Linked DNA regions of Homo sapiens: regions 1, 2 and 3 are each linked to region 4. The links come from fine-mapping of genetic effects on gene expression. A gene starts in region 4. Each other region holds a variant in brackets. All regions are shown on one strand. Distances are between the middles of the regions. Region 1 has its middle 38 kb from the start of STIM2-AS1. Region 2 overlaps STIM2 (stromal interaction molecule 2). Region 3 overlaps STIM2 (stromal interaction molecule 2). Region 4 holds the start of STIM2 (stromal interaction molecule 2).

Region 1 (5,129 bases), 38 kb after region 4:
AAATCCTAAATTATTGCAAATGAAGAGGCAAATCAAGAAAATATCAATATAGATAGCCAACAAACATAAAAAGAAAACATTCGTCTAGTAATTGAGGTGACAGGAATATCCAGTGTGTGTGGAAGAGCTGCCTTGTTATAAATTTAAATAACCTTCTGCAGAGCAGTTTGGCAATGTATATCGTTAAACAGGCATGCTCTGTACCCAGCAATTGTACTTCTAGAAGTTTATTCTATACAAAGGAATGCATAAACATGTTTGCTTAAATGTTATGTGGAATACAAAATTGGAAAAAGTTTAATGAAGAACTTACTATGCATATGGCCATGTGAATTTATTCTAAGGAATGTCCAGAAATATGTGCAAAGATGTATCAACACAGATGTTCATAATACTAAGAAGTAAATGATAGCAAAAAAAAAAGAAAGAAAGAAAGAAAATGACCCCACTGTTAAAAAGAAGGAATTAACTAAATTGTAGTGCAGTAATATAATGTGGAAACTATGTTGTAGAAGTTCATAAATATGCATACGAAAAAGACCCAGAGGACATACACTCAGAAGCTGACGGTCATAATTTCAGAGTCATAGGACTACAAGTGAATTTTGCTTTATTTATTTTTGTTTGTTTGTTTTCTGGATTTTCTGCATTGAGCATTCATTAGTTTTATACTAGTAGAAAATAAGAATATTATGATAGAGAGAAATATATTACTGTGAAAAGATACTTCATATCTGTGTTAGTCAACATTTGAAACTGCAAATGACAGAAAATCCAGCTGCAGTTGTCTTAATAAGAACGAAGTTACTGCTTCACATGCTTCCGGCATGGCTGGATTCAGGCCTCACGCACTGTTGCTAGAACTTGGTCCTTCTCTTATCATCTCTTTATCTCTCGTCTTTGTTCTCTATTGCTGCATGTTCAGGAATGCTCTCCCCATGTGGTGGCAAACATGTCCACAAAGATGTTTAAATCTTCCCTCAGCAAATCCAGCCAATTGTCTTTTAAGTAAGAGTTAAAATAAATTCCTGGATCTTATTTATACTGGCCATCTTGGGATCATGCACCCATCCCTGATCCAATCAAATAGCCCTGTGAATGGAATGCCCTATTAGTTATGCCTGGGCCATGTGCCCATCACTGGAGCCAGCGGTCAGGCAGTCAGCCCGGGTGGCTCACTAAGAGTCAGTGGGGTTCTGTATAAAGAAGGAAGAGGGGAGGAATCCTGCAGAGGTAAAAACCATAACAAAGAAACAAAAATACACTGACGACAAGCTTTCAGTTTCTTTAGATGCTGCCTAAGGTCTGGCTAGAAAGAGTGTTAGCAACCTTAAATCACTTAGGACTCTTGTGGTTGCAAGTGACAGAAAACCTAGAACAAGCTTAAGCAGCAAAGATAATTTATTGGCTCACCTAGCTGAGAAGTCCAGAGGCAAGACTGGCTTCTAGTGGGTCAAAGCCACCCAGGATATGGCTCTTATCATCTCTCCACTGGTGACAGACCCATCTCCAGATTCCACACAAAGGCCCCCGCAACTCTGGGCTCTCTCCCCATGGTAGCAAATTGCTCTGGCAATTCCACACCCCACATCTTCACTTCACTCTAGGTGTGGTCTGGGAACAGAGAATCTCTTCTGTGTATCTTCCACAGAAACACTGTTATTGTCACCTCTCTCATTAACCCAAATTGTATCACAAACCCATCCCTGACCAATCAATGTGGCCTGAGGAATAGGTACATGGATGGGTTTGAGATATGTTTTGGCTGCATCCCCACCCAAATCTCAGCTTGAATGCCCACGTGTTGTGGGAGGGACCCGGTGGGAGGTAATTGAATCATGGGGGCAGGTCTTTCCCGCTGTTCTTGCAATAGTGAATAAGTTTCACGAGATCTGATGATTTTAAAAATGGGAGTTTTCCTGCACAAGCTCTCTCTGTTTGCCTGTTGCCATCCATGTAAGATGTGACTTGCTCCTCCTTGCCTTCTGCCATGATTGTGAGGCCTCCCCAGCCACGTGGAACTGTAAGTCCATTAAACCTCTTTCTTTGTAAATTGCCCAGTCTTGGGTATGTCTTTATTAGCAGCGTGGAAACAAACTAATACAGCTTGAGTCAAGTACAGTCTACTCCTGGGCAGGGTCAGTCTGGTCTGGACCACTATTGAGAGTGGAAGGGTAGAGTGATCCCAAGGAAAATCAAGGTGGGGAAGGGTGGGACTGGATCCCTGCTGGAGAGGTAACCAGCAAATGTCTATCATGTCTCTACAAGAGTCTGACATGTTTTAAACTCTATCTAGTCATTCATTTTAGAATGGGAAATATTTATTCAAACTATTTCCTGTTTGTGGCTTAGTGC[T/A]TCCCCGCTGTTGCAGATTGACTGTAGCTAATGTACTTGCCTAAATGAAGAAGTATACATTTATTACAGGTCTTCAACCGCATCTCAACGTTAACCATTTAAACGAGCCTGCTGTTATCAAGAGGGGTCGAAACAATCATAGCATTACGTAAAGGGCCCTACATAGTCCACTGGCAGCCTTTTTTCCTCTTGGGCTGTAATAACCCAAAAACAGGATTTTTCAAAAAAATATATATTTCCATGGAACTTTATTTAGGGAAACATATGGGGCTTGGAAATGTCAGCACACTGGGAAGAAAGCAGGAAGTAAAAAGGGTTTCGTGCTCCTGTCTCTCTTATTAATGAAGTGGGTTCAAAGTCGTGTTGGGTTAGCAAGAAAAACAAACAAAATGATTCAGGCCTGCTCTGGGTGACATCTGTCCACTAGGACAGTCACTCACATTTGGCTTGGAAAGCTTTTCAGTAGATGGCACAGGCCAGGAAGGAGATGTTTTCTTTTCATCTCCAGAAGGAAGTTTGCACAAATCCCTTCAGAGCCAGGCTTTTGTGTGATAAATAAATGTGTCTCTGCCAGAGAGAGTAACAAGAAAACCCCAGCGACTGACAGCTTAAGACAGGGGTAAAAAATCACCATGGCTAATGTCATCACAAATGAGGGACAGCTTTCAAGTTTCCGTGATTAGAAATGCTTTGCACAGGCAACAGCGGGGCTTGGCAGATGATGTGACTAAGTGATCTGTTTCCCCATGTGGCGACTGCTGCAGAACAATTCCCCATCTTGTCTTAGATGAGTCAACAGAATTCTGCCAAAGTGTCATAAAATGTCAAGGAAAACATTTCTGCCACCAGGGCTCAGGAGAGCATGCAGGTGGAAGTGGAGAGAGAAGGGCCGTGGAGAAAAGTGGTCCGCCTGGCCACCAGAGGTCTGCCACACATAAAGAACGGGTACCTGCTGACCTGTGTGTGATGAGCAGACAGGGACAGGGACTTCCAGCATGACCACGGTGAGCCCCGCCATGGCTTCTGACTCCCTGGCACAGTTACAGGACAGCCCCACCATTGAACCACTGGGCCAGGACCTGCATTCGCAGGCAAGTGCAGGGAGACCTTTCTCCAGTCTCTCATTCTTGCAGGACTATTTTATCTGCCTAATTTTCCAGGTCCAAGATCTAGGTCCTGTGAGATTTCAAGAGCCCAGAAACATGGCTAAATCCCAAAGGAAAATAATTACTGCCTCAAACACACAAGGAGTACTACAAAACCTGTTAAAATAAATACCTGTTTACATGAATGCCCACAAAGCACAGAATTACACTTATGTGATCAACTGTTGAATTATTTAGAAAAATTTCATTACATTTGAAAACAATGTTAATGGTAGATTTTGTTTTACTTCAAGTGTGCATGATGACTGCAGAGAATCAGAGCCAACTGAAAATTCAATGAGTTGTTCCTTGCCAAATGATTTCAAAGACAAAACTATGATACTCCTTTGAAAAAATCTCAGCCAAAATTCTGTTTCATGGGGAAGGGAGGAGCATTTAAATATCTTTGCTAAGATGTGGGGTGAGACCCTCAAAAGAAAGTGTGGCAAGGACACGAGAAGCTTTCATACAGTCTGGAACTGCTAACTGCTCTTCATGTGCATGCTTGATTGCAAACGTCCTTTCTTCCAGGCGCCATATTGGCACCCATGCATCCCTACACTAAATGCAGTGTAGGGGCCAGAGGGATACAGAAAGCTGAGTCGAGTGAATACCATTCATTTGGTAGCCAGTCAACAGATATTTTTATATGCCCACTGTATTCCAGGTGATGTTCTGGGCACTGAGAAGACAGCTGTGAAAACAAATCCCTGTACTGATGAAGCTTACAGTCTAATGGGGGTAAAGATGATCACCAAATGAGTTAAACATATAATATATTTTATGGAGTAGGTGCTATGGTGAAAAGTAAACAGAGAGAGGGAAATTAGTACCACCATTTTGGAAAGCAGCATGGAGGTTCCTCAAAAAAACTACATATAGAATTAGCATATGATCCAGCAATCCCACTTCTGTGCATATATCCAAAAGAATTGAAATTGGTATGTCAAAGAGATATCTGCACTACCACATTCATTTCAGCATGATTCACAAGAGCCTCAGTGCCCATCAATGGATAAATAGATTTTTAAAATGTGGTATTTATGTACAATGGAATACTATACAGCCTTTAAAAAGAAGGAAACTCTGCCATTCACAACAACATGATGGAACTGGAGGATGTTATGCTTGGTCGAAATAAGTCAGGCACAGAAAGGCTAATACTGTATGATCTCAACTTACATGTGGACTCTAGAAAAGTCAATCTCATAAAAATAGAGTAGAAAGATGCCAAAAGCTAGGGTCCAGGTTGGAGGATAGGGGTGGGCAGGTGGAGAAGGGAAGAGATGGGGAAGAAAAGATGTTGAACAAACAGTACAAAGTTTCAGACTGCAAGAATAAGTTTTAGTGATCTCTTGTACTGCATGGTAACCATAGTGAATAACAATGTATCACATATTTCATAATTGCTAAAAGCATAGATTTTTAATGTTCTCATCCTCCAAAAAGTAAGTTACTAAGATAACGGATATGTCAATTAGCTTGAATGAATCTTTCTACAATGTACACATAGATCAAAGCATCACATTGTACCCCACAATTATATGTAATTATTGTCCATTAAAAAGCAAAGCAGAGAGAAAAATGTTGAAGTTTGCAATTTTAGAGTAGGAATGGGAAGGCCTCACT
Region 2 (4,000 bases), 70 kb before region 4:
TTCACTCTCCCACAAGCTCTTTTATGTTTTCCACTGTTGCCTTACTTTCTTGATATCCACAGATCATACCAGCATTAATCTGCTGCTTTCTCATGTCTTTTCTCACTTCTAGTCTCTCATGTACACATTGATTCTTTATTACTTCTCAGTTCTTTCAGGACAAGTCGTTATGTGTTTTTTCCATGAAATGACCAGATGCCTTTGTTTATCTTTGCAAAGCCAACATCTAGCACACTGTCTGGCAGACAATAGGTGCTCAATAAAAGACTGCTGAACCGAAGTTAGTTTCTTCAGCTCTTAATTATTTTTCTGTTGTTGACAAGTACTAAGCAGTTGCTGCTGCTGCTTAGCTCCAGAGAGTGCTCCTAACCCATGATCACCATGGGCTCTCCATGGTCACTTACAGGCCCAGGCCATTCCAAAAGTTTGATTTTCCAATATTCATTCGTTAAACAAACATTTATTAGATGCTTATTAAGTACTATTTAGACATTTATAGCCAAGATATACTACCATGAAAAATTTAATAAATGCAAAACAAAAGCATCAAATTTAGCAAACGATGTTCAATTTATCAATTGCTAAAATGACTTTATCTTTGATCAGATGCTACAGTAAGTTTAGTGTCAGTACTAACGAGTTATGTTAAAGTCACTGAAAAATCTGTGTGGTGTTATTTTGGTAGCAATTATCAATTTTCAGGAAAAAAAACTCAAACAAAAACCGACTGACCACTTACATTATGCCAAACTTAAGAGACAGTTTGTATTACAAAAGTTCCTTGTCAAACAGACGTTAAGATTCACCATCCTTTGAAGATTAATAATCTACATTAACACAGAGAAACAAGAAACACTAGAAGTCAAGAACATGGGTTCTGGAGTTGGCCTGGCTTCAAAACCTCAACTCTATCATTTACAAGCTTGTAACTATGGGCATATTGCCTAATCCACCAAACTGTTTCCTCATCTGCATATAAGATAATAAGAGTAGATTCTTAGCTAATACAGTTGTTATAAGGAGTCCATACCATAGTACATACAAAAGTGCTTATACGATGGAACAAATAGTAAATGCTCAATAAATGTTATCTTAGTATATAAATCTATAAATTTAAGTTTAAGAAGTCCTACAAAACTAATCCAGCATTTCCCAATTTTGACCACGTAATCCATTTTCCCATAAAACACTTACTAACATTCTCTGCTACTTTAATTGTGTGCTGATTGCCATTATTTTCCAGAAAGAATTAAAGTCTCTATTTTTATGGTATCGTTATATTAACTAAACAAATCATGAAATTATGAAAATTTCAGTATATAGGAAAGTACCTCAGTAACTGTAAGTTAATAGACAGCAAGACTTCTCTAGCACCTATGCCCTTCCCTTCCCTTTGCCCTGCTTGTTCTTTCAGAAGAATGTCAAGTGATCCTTCAGTCAAACAAATTACACTGGTACATTTGTGCATGTAATTAGAGTCACCATTCACTGCAAAGCTCTACTCAATAGATAACTTTTAATCAGGCTTTAAAATTCTACACATATCCTATTACAAAGATGAACACAATGGGTTTTATTGTGGGACATTTCCAAAACAAAGCCTTTTAAAGGAAATTTTATAACTTTACTGCTTTTATACTCTATATTTCTATGGCTTGAGAATCTCCCATCAAATATTTCTAGTTAGTAAATTATCAAAATAAACTGTGGTAAGCAGTCTCTGAAATGGCTCCCAATGATACCCACATCCTTGTATTTGTCTCCCCGTGATGGTTGGCTGGACCTAGTAACTCACTTCCCATGAGTAGAATACAGCAAAAGTGATGGGACGTCACTTCCAGCATTAGTCACAAAAAGATTATGACGTCCACATTACTGCCCCTTCTCTTTCTCTCAGAGCTCCCTCTCACTCTGAGAGAGTGAAACAGTGGGCTGAGGGAACCCCATTGTCATGTTATAAACTGCCTACAGAGAGACTTATACGGCAGAAAACTGGTATCTCCAACAGCCATTGAGGACCTCTGAGACTAACAGCTATATGAGTAGGTTTTTAAGTGGATCCTCCCCTAATCAGGCCTTGAGATGACACAACCCCAGCTGATATCTTAATTGCAGCCCTGTGAAAGACCCAGAGCCAGAAGACCCACCTAAGCTGCACTAAGATTTCTGACCCACAGAAACCATGAAATGAGAAATGTGTGTTGCTTTAAGCCACTAAGTTTTGGGGTCATTTGTTACATAGCAATAAACTAACACATAAGTTAAAAGTTAACCTTAGAAAACTTCAGCAAAAA[A/T]TATATGTATTTAATCTTTTGGACACAATACCCCACATAATTCAAAACACACTGTTCAATTTTAAAATGCATTGCCTTCTTTTTTGTCTAATCCTAATTTTGCCTATTTTCTTAAGTGACTCTCCACAGACACATCTGTGTTGTTAACTAAGCTTTCCAACAGGTATAAAAATCATGGCAAAGAATGTATTGTGAAGGCAGCATATGTAACATAAGGAATACTGAAATACTAGGTACAATGGACTTTTCAGATAAGTAGGTCTTAAAGTTGATTTTGTTTTATATATGTATATCAAACAAACTGATAAAAAAAAACCTCTAAAACTACCTATTCCAGGTGGTAAAATGAAAAAGAATAAATAAAAACAAAGAAAAACTAGAACAAGGAAAGGAATGAAAAAAATGTTCATTCAAAGAAAAAGAGGGAAAGGTAAGAACAGAAAACAAAATTCATATACACTAGAATCTATGATAAAACTTTTCAGTCACAAAATGAGCAATAACAATGTGAACTCCACTGCTGTGCTCAGGGCAACAAAACCATTAATTTCTCTTATTTAAATTATTTGTTGACCAAATACCTACACTTTCCAAAATTTCACTAAAATTGACAGACCGTGCAGCCTTGAATGCAATCAACAATTCAATCTTAACAGATCACAGATTCTGCACACATTGACATCTAACCTTTTTTATGTTGGTCCAGAAGATGATGACCTAGACAGCAAAAGCTTTATATCCTATTCCTGATCTGAAGCACCCAAAGTACTCCAAATTCAGTTTTAACATAGCCCTGGAAAGTTATCAGACATTTATTCTCTTATTTGTCCAAGTACTGTACACATGATACACTTTAAGTGTTACCCTCACTTTGCCTGCCACCCTATAGAACATTACAGCCCCCATCATCTCTAACTGATAATGATCCCCCTGCCCCTGCTTACTTATTTTGTTTAGTCTCCTTCCCACAAGCCCTACCTGAATGTTCACTTAAAGGCACAGATTTTGTCTATCTTGTTCCTAATCTATTCCAAGCAACTATTTGAGTATCTGGTATAAAATAGGCCATCAGATATTAGCTCAATATTAAATAAATTATAAAAATAAAGAATTTTTCATATGACCAAATACAAAACAGAGGATACTAAAGAGAAAAAAAAATAAGTTTTTAAACAGAATTTTCAAATGCTAAATACTTTTCTGAATTTTTTTTAGAAAAGCAACATTTCAAAACAAAACAAAAATCACAAGAAATTAAGTACTTTAAAATTTGGGCTAAAATCACAAGAAATTAAGTACTTTAAAATTTGGGCTAAGGTTTCCTATCAAACGTATAAAGTCTCCTAGTGAAGGCCAGTAAAGGTCCATAAAATAATTATTGCTTATTTCTTTCAAAAAGACACCTTAACAAGAAATACAAACCAAAATGCACCTATATTGAACTGAAGGACTATAGTACAAGAACTGCAGAATTAATAATTCATCCTTTAAAGCATACAAACACATCACACAGAGCCTAGATCAGTGCTAATAGAAATAAAATGTGAGCTACATACATAATTTTGTTTTCTAGAAGTTACACTGAGTAAAAACAAAGGAAGTAAATTTTAATATTATATTTCATGTAACCCAATATGTCTAAAATATCTCCAACAGGTAATCAATATTTTCAAATTAGATATTTAATATTATTCTTCTCATATAAG
Region 3 (4,000 bases), 30 kb before region 4:
TACACTTTCACTCTTACCTCAGGGTTATATCAACTTTCCAGCCCTACGTCATAATTTAATCCAGAGACCTTGATCAACTTTCCCTTCCACAAGACACCACAACAACCCATTATATTCATGACCTTATGCTAATTGGACCTAGTGAGCAAGAAACTGCAATTACTCTAAGCTTATTGGTAAAACATATGCATGTCAGAAGGTAAGAAATGAGTAAGACAAAAATCCAGGGGTGTCATGGACTGAATATATGCGTCCCCCCCCAAAAAAATTCATATGTTAAAATCCTAACTCCCAAAGTAATAATAGGAATTGAGACCTTTGGGAGGTCTGTCAGTCATGAGGGTGGCGCCGTCTTGAATAGGATTAGTGCTCTTATGAAACAGGAGCTCACTCGCTCTCTCTGCTGTCCACCACATGAAGATACAAAAAGATGGCCGCAAAACAGAAGAGTGCCCTCACTAGACACTGGATCTGCCAGCACCTTGATCTTGGATTTCTCAGCCTCCAGAGCTGTGAGAAATAAATGTTTGATGTTTAAGCCACGCAGTCTTTGGTAATTTCTTAAAGCCTGATGTATTCGTTCATTTTCACGCTGCTGATAAAGATATACCCAAGACTGGGCAATTTACAAAAGAAAGAGGTTTACTGGACTTACAGTTCTGCATGGCTGGGGAGGCCTCACAATTATGGCAGAAGGTAAGGAGGAGCAAGTCACATCTTACACAGATAGCGGCAGACAGAGCTTGTGCAGAGAAACTCCCATTTTAAAACCATCAGATCTCACAAGACCCATTCACTATCATGAGAACAGCATGGGAAAGACCCACACCCAAGATTCAATCATCTCCCACTGGGTCCCTCGCACAACACATAGGAATTATGGGAGCCGCAAGATGAGACTTGGGTAGAGACACAGAGCCAACCCACATCACCTGAACAGACAAGGAGCCTTCCACCTCGGTGAAATTTCTAAGGGTCTAGTGATGTGGTACATGTTGACATATCCCTTCTAATGTGAAGTAAAAGTTGTTTTAGCTAGTCCCTCCTAAAATCAAGACAGACAGAATGTCTAGTAGGCCTCTTTGTATTTGGAAGGCAACATATTCCTTATTTGGGTGTGCTACTCTAGCCCATTTACTGAGTGTATCAGTCAGGGTTTTCTAGAAAAACAGAACCAATAACCAAAAGGGGGTGTGTGTGTGTGTGTGTGTGTGTGTGTGTGTGTGTGTGTATGTATGTATACACATATCTTTATATGTATATATACATGCACAAACACACATATATGTGTATAAATATAGAGATTTATTTTAAGGAACTAGTTCACAAGATTATACAGGCTGACAAGTCTGAAATCTGTAGTGCAGGCAAGAGTTTATGTTTTACTTGAGTCCAAATTCTGTCACAAGAGCAAGCTAGCAAGCTAGAAACTCAAGCAAAATGTCTAGGTTACAGTCTTAAGGCAGAAATACTTCTTTTTCAGGAAACCTCAGTTTCTGCTCCTAAGGCCTTCAACTGATTGGATAAGGCCCACTCATATCATCAAGGGCAATCTCTCAGCATAACTACTTACAGATACTAATCATATCTACAAATTACTTTCATGCAACATCTAGACTAGTGTTTGACCAAACAACTGGACACCACAGACCAGCCAAGTTGACACACACAAAAAATTATCCATCACACAAACTGAACTATAAAGCTATTAGTTCTGAATGTGGCCCAGAACAAGAAAAGGCTTTGCAACAGACTAGGCTGCCATTGTAAGCTGCTGTGCCACTTGGGACATGTGATCCAGTAGATCCAATAGTGCTTCAAGTTTCAGAGGCAGATAGAGCTTCTGTGTGAAGCCTCTACTGACAGGCTCATATAGGTTAATCAGAGTGAAGACCCTTAGGATCTTAGAGCAAAGCTCTGCCATCCTCTCTGGAAAAGTACTCTCCTTTTTTTTTTTTTTTTTTTTGAGACGGAGTCTCGCTCTGTCGCCCAGGCTGGAGTGCAGTGGCGGGATCTCGGCTCACTGCAAGCTCCGCCTCCCGGGTTCACGCCATTCTCCTGCCTCAGCCTCCCAAGTAGCTGGGACTACAGGCGCCCGCCACTACGCCCGGCTAATTTTTTGTATTTTTAGTAGAGACGGGGTTTCA[A/C]CGTTTTAGCTGGGATGGTCTCGATCTCCTGACCTCGTGATCCACCCGCCTCGGCCTCCCAAAGTGCTGGGATTACAGGCGTGAGCCACCGAGTACTCTCCTTTTGAGAAACAGATTTTGGCTTGCTACGGGGCCTTATTAGAGACTAAATGCTGAACAATGTGCCAAGGAGTTGCCATGAGACCTGAGCTGCCCATTATGAACTGGGTGCTATCTGGCCCCACGATTCATAAAGTGGGGCATGCATGGCAGTACTCCATCACTGAATGAAAATGGAATATGACAGATCAAGATCAAGCAGGCCCTGAAGGTTCAAGTAAGTTATATGAAGAAGTTGTACAAATGCCCACGGTCCCCATTCCTACCACATTCCCTTCTCTCTCCCAGCCCACACCTATGACCTCAGGGGAAGTTTCCTACTATCAGTTGACCGAAGAAAAAAAAGTGGGCCTAGTTTACAGATGACTGTGGACAATATGCACAAACCATCACAAAGCAGATGGCTGTAGCACTAACTGCCTTTCTGGGACAGGGATAGTAATGAAGGAAAACTCTCCTGTGGACAGAACTTTGGGCAGCACACTTGGCTCTCATTTTGCTTGGAAGAAGAAATGGCCAGAGGTGCCACCGTGTACACCAATTCATAGGATGTGGCCTACTGTTTAGCTAGATGGTCACAGAATTGGAAGGACATAATTGGGAAAATGGTAACAAGAGGATCTGGAGAAATAATGTAGATAGACCTCTTTGGGCAAAAAATGTGAAGGAATCTGTGTCCCACGTGAATGCTGACCAAAAGGTGACCTCAGCAGAGCAGGATTTTAATAATCAAGTAGATAGAATAACTCATTCTGCAGATCCCAGCCAGCTTTTTTCCCTAGCCACTTCTGTCATGAACGAAGAGGCCATAGGAAGGAGGAAGGTGGCTCAGCAACATGAACTTCTATGTACCAAGGCCGACCTGGCTACAGGTGCTAATGAGGCCCAATCTGCCAGTTACAGAAACCAATAATGAGTCCCTGATATGGCACCGTTCCCCAGAGTGATCAGCCAACTATCTCATGAAAGGCTGATTATATTGGACCACTGCCATCATGAATGGGGCACTGTTTTGTTCTTATTACAACAGATACTCTAGATATGGATTTCTCTTCCCTGCATGCAAGCATTCTGCCAAACCCACAGAATGCCTTATCCACCATCTAGGTGCTTCACACAGCATTGCTTCTGATCAAGGAACACACTTTACAGCACATGAAGTGTAACAGTGGACCCATACTAATAAAATTCACTGGTCTTACCATGTTCCTCATCATCCTGAAGCAGCTGGCTTAATAGAATGGTAGAATGGATTTTTGAAGACTCAGTTACGTTGTCAGCAAGGTGACAAAAACTTGTGCAATGTTTTCCATGAGGCTATGTATGCTCTAAATCAGCATCCAATGTATGGTGCTATTTCTCCCATGGCCAGGATTCATGGATCCCAGAATCCAGAGAGAGAAATAAGAGTGGGGCCACTCACTATTATCCCTATTGTTTCACTAGCGAAATTTTTGTTGCCTATTCTTTAACCTTATCCTCTGCTGGTCTAGAGGCCTTATTTCCAAAAAGAGGACTGTTTCCACTGGGAGATAGAATGATTCCACTGAACCGACATTAAGACTACCACCTGGCCACTTTGAACTCCTCATGCCTCAGAATGAACAGGCAAAGAAGACCCAGGGTTAGTGTACTGACCAGGGTTGCTGGTTACTAAGAAGAAATTCAACTGCTACCATACAATGGAGGTATGAAAGACTAAGTCCAGAATACGAGAGATCTTGTAATTACTTTCACGCTCTGTGATTAAAAGA
Region 4 (4,084 bases):
CTTTTTCACAGAGCATTAGCCAATTATGTATTAACCACATTTTTCTGCTCGAGAAACCTAGAACCACTTATACCTTCTAGAAGCCTAAATATTCCTGCTCCTTCCCTTCCTGCATGAGGCATTAAATCTTCAAATTATAGTCTTATTTATCAACTTTCCTAATAATCACTATTCTTCACTATACTGTTACTTGCCACATTTTTATTTGGAGAATAAATACTATTCAAGCATAAAGCTGTCTGACCTATCTTCTCACTCAAACTGTACTATGCTCCTAATACTGATTATTCTATAATCACTTTATCCCAGTTACCCAATTGGTAGGTTTGATGTATCAAGTTCCATTTAATAGGGCTTGATATGCTTCAGGGTAAAGTTAAACATGCTGACCATTATGTTCTATACTCTACATCCTCCAAAGCTTTTAAAGTTTACCAACATCCTTCTTCTCTCTAGAATAGTAAATATCCTATCATAGAAATCAGAGAAACTGCTTGGCTTTAAAGAATACAGTTCCTGAGCACTTGTCAGAGAAGCTGTTAGTAACTTCCAGACGCCCGCAGGACTATCATTTTGGTTAAATTAATCACGGGTCATCTTCTGCCACTTTAAACTTTTTAGTCTTACAATTATTGTAGGAAATCTACAGATCTACTTTAAAAATAAGTGAAATACTAAAAAAAAAAAAAAAAACCATTATTTTAGCTCCATTACTTTTCCCAAAGAAATCATTTCAGGGTCCTTATATAATAACTTTTACTTAAACCACAACTGATCAGTTGTACATAACACCGGAAGGCTTTAAAAAGGATACAATTCTGCACTTAACCTTACAAAACACGTTTCCAAGTTTTCAATTATGAGATCGTTCTATATATTAAAAAAAAGGTGCTAGTGCAGTCTATCAGAACTGTGCTGCCAGCTGCAAGCCCCGAGTATGCTGCACTTTGCAAATTTTAGGTATAATTTCTGGTTACCTGCTGAGGTTTCTACACCCTTTGTCACCCAGTGATGCTCCCACCACCAAACACTTTCCATCACCACTTAAAACGGCCTCCTTCCACCCCGCAAAAAATGCACTGTAAACTTAGGCATTTCTGCATACTAACACGGAACCACTAATATCACTAGGTATTATGGCTCTCAAAGAATCCCCTTTAGCAGGCTCCCCTGGGACGCTGTGCTCAAGCGGAGCTTTGAACCGGTGAGACTCGCTGCCAGCTGCCTTTGCAAAAGCAGCACCAGAGGTAGACTCAATACCGCAATGCTGCTGCTGACTTTTTCTAGCAGCCTCAAAAAAAAAAAAAAAAAAAAAATCAGCCCAGTCCCCTGCAGACCCTGCTGGCACTTCTGCAGCACGAAAGAGAAACCACCGCATTGCTCAGCTTGGAAGATCGGAGAGCCCGACTGAAGGGAGGGGAATCAGTGCCGTCGAGAGGCTCGGCGAGGGCGGGGTGTCGGGGTGAAAAGGAAAGACGTCCGGAGTGCAGGGGACCGCGACGAAGCAGCAGGCAGGGCTCCGCATCGCGCCCTGGCCGGAGCCGCGGAATAGCGGACGTCCGGCGGAGATGCTGACCTCTGCACGGGTTGGGGGTCCCATCGCTGCCGGCCGAGCCCCGCCCGCCGCCCCCCGGCCCCTCACCTGTCATGAGCGCCGGGCTATCGCCGGCCGCCGCGGCGGGAGAGGAGGCGGCAGTTGCGGCAGAGCCAGTCGCCCGCCGCCCGCGGAGGTGCCGGGGCACAAGCTCGCATCCGTCCGCCGCTCCGGCTACCAGCAGCCCGAGCACCAGCAACGCAGCCCAGCGCCGCCGCCGCAGCAGCCAGCCCCACGCTGGGCCAGGAGTCGAGGCGGGATGAAGGCGCCGAGGAGAAGCCGGGTGAAAGCGCAGCGGCGCCCCGGCCGCCTGCAGCTCGCCGGCTCCGCGAGGCGCCACCACCGCCGCCGGCGACTCCTCCGGCCGCCCCCGCCGCCTCAGACACGGGCTCCCGCCGGGCGCCAGCCTGGTCCCATCGGCACCGGCGGCCTCCGGAGCTCTGATCCCGGCTGCGTTCATTGGTTCCGGTTATTTAAAAAAAAAAAAAAAAAAGGTGGGGGGTAGAAAGGTACGGCGTCTTCAGGCGGTGCACGACACCCGCGCTGCTGCTGCGGCGAGACCGGGATCCGCTGCTCTGGCGCCGCCAAACACCAACCCCAGCTCCCGCGCCGCCGCCGCCGCGGCGCATCCCCCCGCCCCCTCCGGCCCGCGCTGGTCGTAGTACCACGCTCCGCCGGGACGCCTCCCTCCCCTCGCACATTCGCTCGCATACCAATCCCCCGCCTCCCTCAGGCTCTCCACGGCGCAGGCGCGGCGCTGCTGTACTGCGCGTGCGCGGCATCCCAGCCCCGCCCCGGAGGCGTTCCTAGACGGACGGTAGTACCGTGGGGCGGCTGATAACGCTTTAGCGAGCCGCGAAGATAGGAGGCGGGGAAGAAGGGGGACGTGTACCTCTCCCTCATTCACGGTACCACCGCGAGGGGGAGTGGGGGGCTACAAGGGGACGGAGAGAAGAGTCCAGACGTCCCACATCCTGAGGGCGAGTTTCAGCCTCGTAGAGGGCAGCGAAAGTAATTGCATGGATCAGGAAAATCTTGCAATCGGAAAACAGCAGCGTCCCCGTAATTTCAATATAGGTGGGGCTTACAAGTGGCTGGCTGTTTAGACGCGGTTAGCATAGCTTAGCGTTTTATTTACTTGCCAAACATTTCACAAAGCGCGTGCTATGTGTGAGTGTACCAGGCATTGCTCTAACCGTTTTACACATTTACATGCTATAACTCCAAAATTATCGTTACCCCCTTTTACGAATGAAGAGACTAAGACCTAGAAATGTGAAGTAAGTTGTCCCCAATATCCCACAGCTAATTCATGGGAAATGAGCGAGATTTAGCAGCCACTGAAAAGGCCTATTTAAGAGAATTTACTTTAGCCTCTGACTCTCCTAGGTACATTTACCTGAACTCATCACCTTCCCACCCCCATCCCATCGACTCTGTGCTGTATCCTGAACCGGCTGACAGAACAATGATGTAGACTTGACTTGTTTTCGCCAACCTGGAATGAAGCAAAGCTCTTGTGCACCCAAGATCTGCTCTCTGTTGTAAATCCTGTTCAGACCTGGTCTAATTGGTTTGAATAAATAAAGAACCGGAATCTTTCTCATCCAAACTAGTTGCCAGCATATTTTTAAGGCCACCTCCCTTCAAATTTAAAAGGAAGTGTTGAATGTACTGTCACTATAAATTAAAAGCCCTGGAAATTCACACGCAAGGAGGCATTCTTTCTCCCAGGGGCACAAAATTGTTTAAAATTTGCAGATAGGGTTATTAAACACGAAGATCCTTTTGCTATTGGGTTTTGTTGGTTTCATTCTGCTTATTGGTTTGTTTGCTTGCTTTCTCAAGCCAAGAAGATACTCAAATTACATTCTCCTAAAGTATTTCTTAGGTAGCCTGGCCAAGATAACCACAAATATCGTTTATTGTGGAAGGGCAGATGCACACTTTAGAAAAGAATCAAGGATGTCTTTGAGGCTAAGTCAATCTATCAACAGTTATTTCTCAGCAGACTTCTTGTGGGCATAGTGTTCAGGTGGCAATTCTTTATAGGGCAACCGGGAGATTATATTTCCCCTGCTGAAAGGCACAGCGATGAAGTCACACCAGAGTGCTGAGTGCCCACCAGAGAAGATAATTCTGCTAGGGGACCAGAACAATATAAATAACAAGCTTGTTCCTGCTCTCCAGGAGGCATTTCATTTATTAAATGTTTACTGAGTACCTAGTATGTGCCAGGCAGAGTACTGAGTGGTGAGGGTTAGGCAAGAGAGACACTTGAAAAAGGCAATTAAGTCAGCAGTCAGGGCTATGAGATAAACAGCACAGTCCCATGACTAAGGCATCTTACAATCTTTTTAAGGAGATAAAATGTACACCCATTAAACAATTAGAGGCTAATACAAAGTAGTAATCAGTTGCTAAATGGTGTAGTGCAAACTGTTACAGTAGTAACAGTATAAAACCACGAACAAATTAACAAATCACAGG

Evidence for each region.
Region 1: its variant is fine-mapped to the expression of STIM2 in whole blood (TOPMed, PIP above 0.99). The same link has a PIP of 0.9 or more in monocytes.
Region 2: its variant is fine-mapped to the expression of STIM2 in whole blood (TOPMed, PIP above 0.99).
Region 3: its variant is fine-mapped to the expression of STIM2 in whole blood (INTERVAL, PIP above 0.99).

The regions. Positions count from the first base shown.
Region 1 is chr4:26,819,978-26,825,106 of GRCh38, reverse strand. It overlaps a transcript of TBC1D19 not described here. Among named protein-coding and RNA genes, the nearest start is that of STIM2-AS1, 38 kb to the left of the region's middle. The variant T/A (reference allele first, on the strand shown) is at 2,356.
Region 2 is chr4:26,929,085-26,933,084 of GRCh38, reverse strand. All of the region lies in intron 2 of STIM2 (stromal interaction molecule 2), which reads right to left. Among named protein-coding and RNA genes, the nearest start is that of STIM2, 70 kb to the right of the region's middle. The variant A/T (reference allele first, on the strand shown) is at 2,295.
Region 3 is chr4:26,888,790-26,892,789 of GRCh38, reverse strand. The region is part of intron 1 of STIM2 (stromal interaction molecule 2); the gene reads right to left. Among named protein-coding and RNA genes, the nearest start is that of STIM2, 30 kb to the right of the region's middle. The variant A/C (reference allele first, on the strand shown) is at 2,148.
Region 4 is chr4:26,858,928-26,863,011 of GRCh38, reverse strand. STIM2 (stromal interaction molecule 2) reads right to left here and starts at 2,171. Exons shown (of 12, transcript NM_020860.4): 1 at 1,643-2,171. The coding sequence starts at 1,793. STIM2-AS1 (STIM2 antisense RNA 1) reads left to right here and starts at 2,413. Exons shown (of 2, transcript NR_134674.1): 1 at 2,413-2,502; 2 at 2,984-3,388. RefSeq lists silencers at 1,475-2,044, 2,055-2,424 and an enhancer at 2,515-2,614.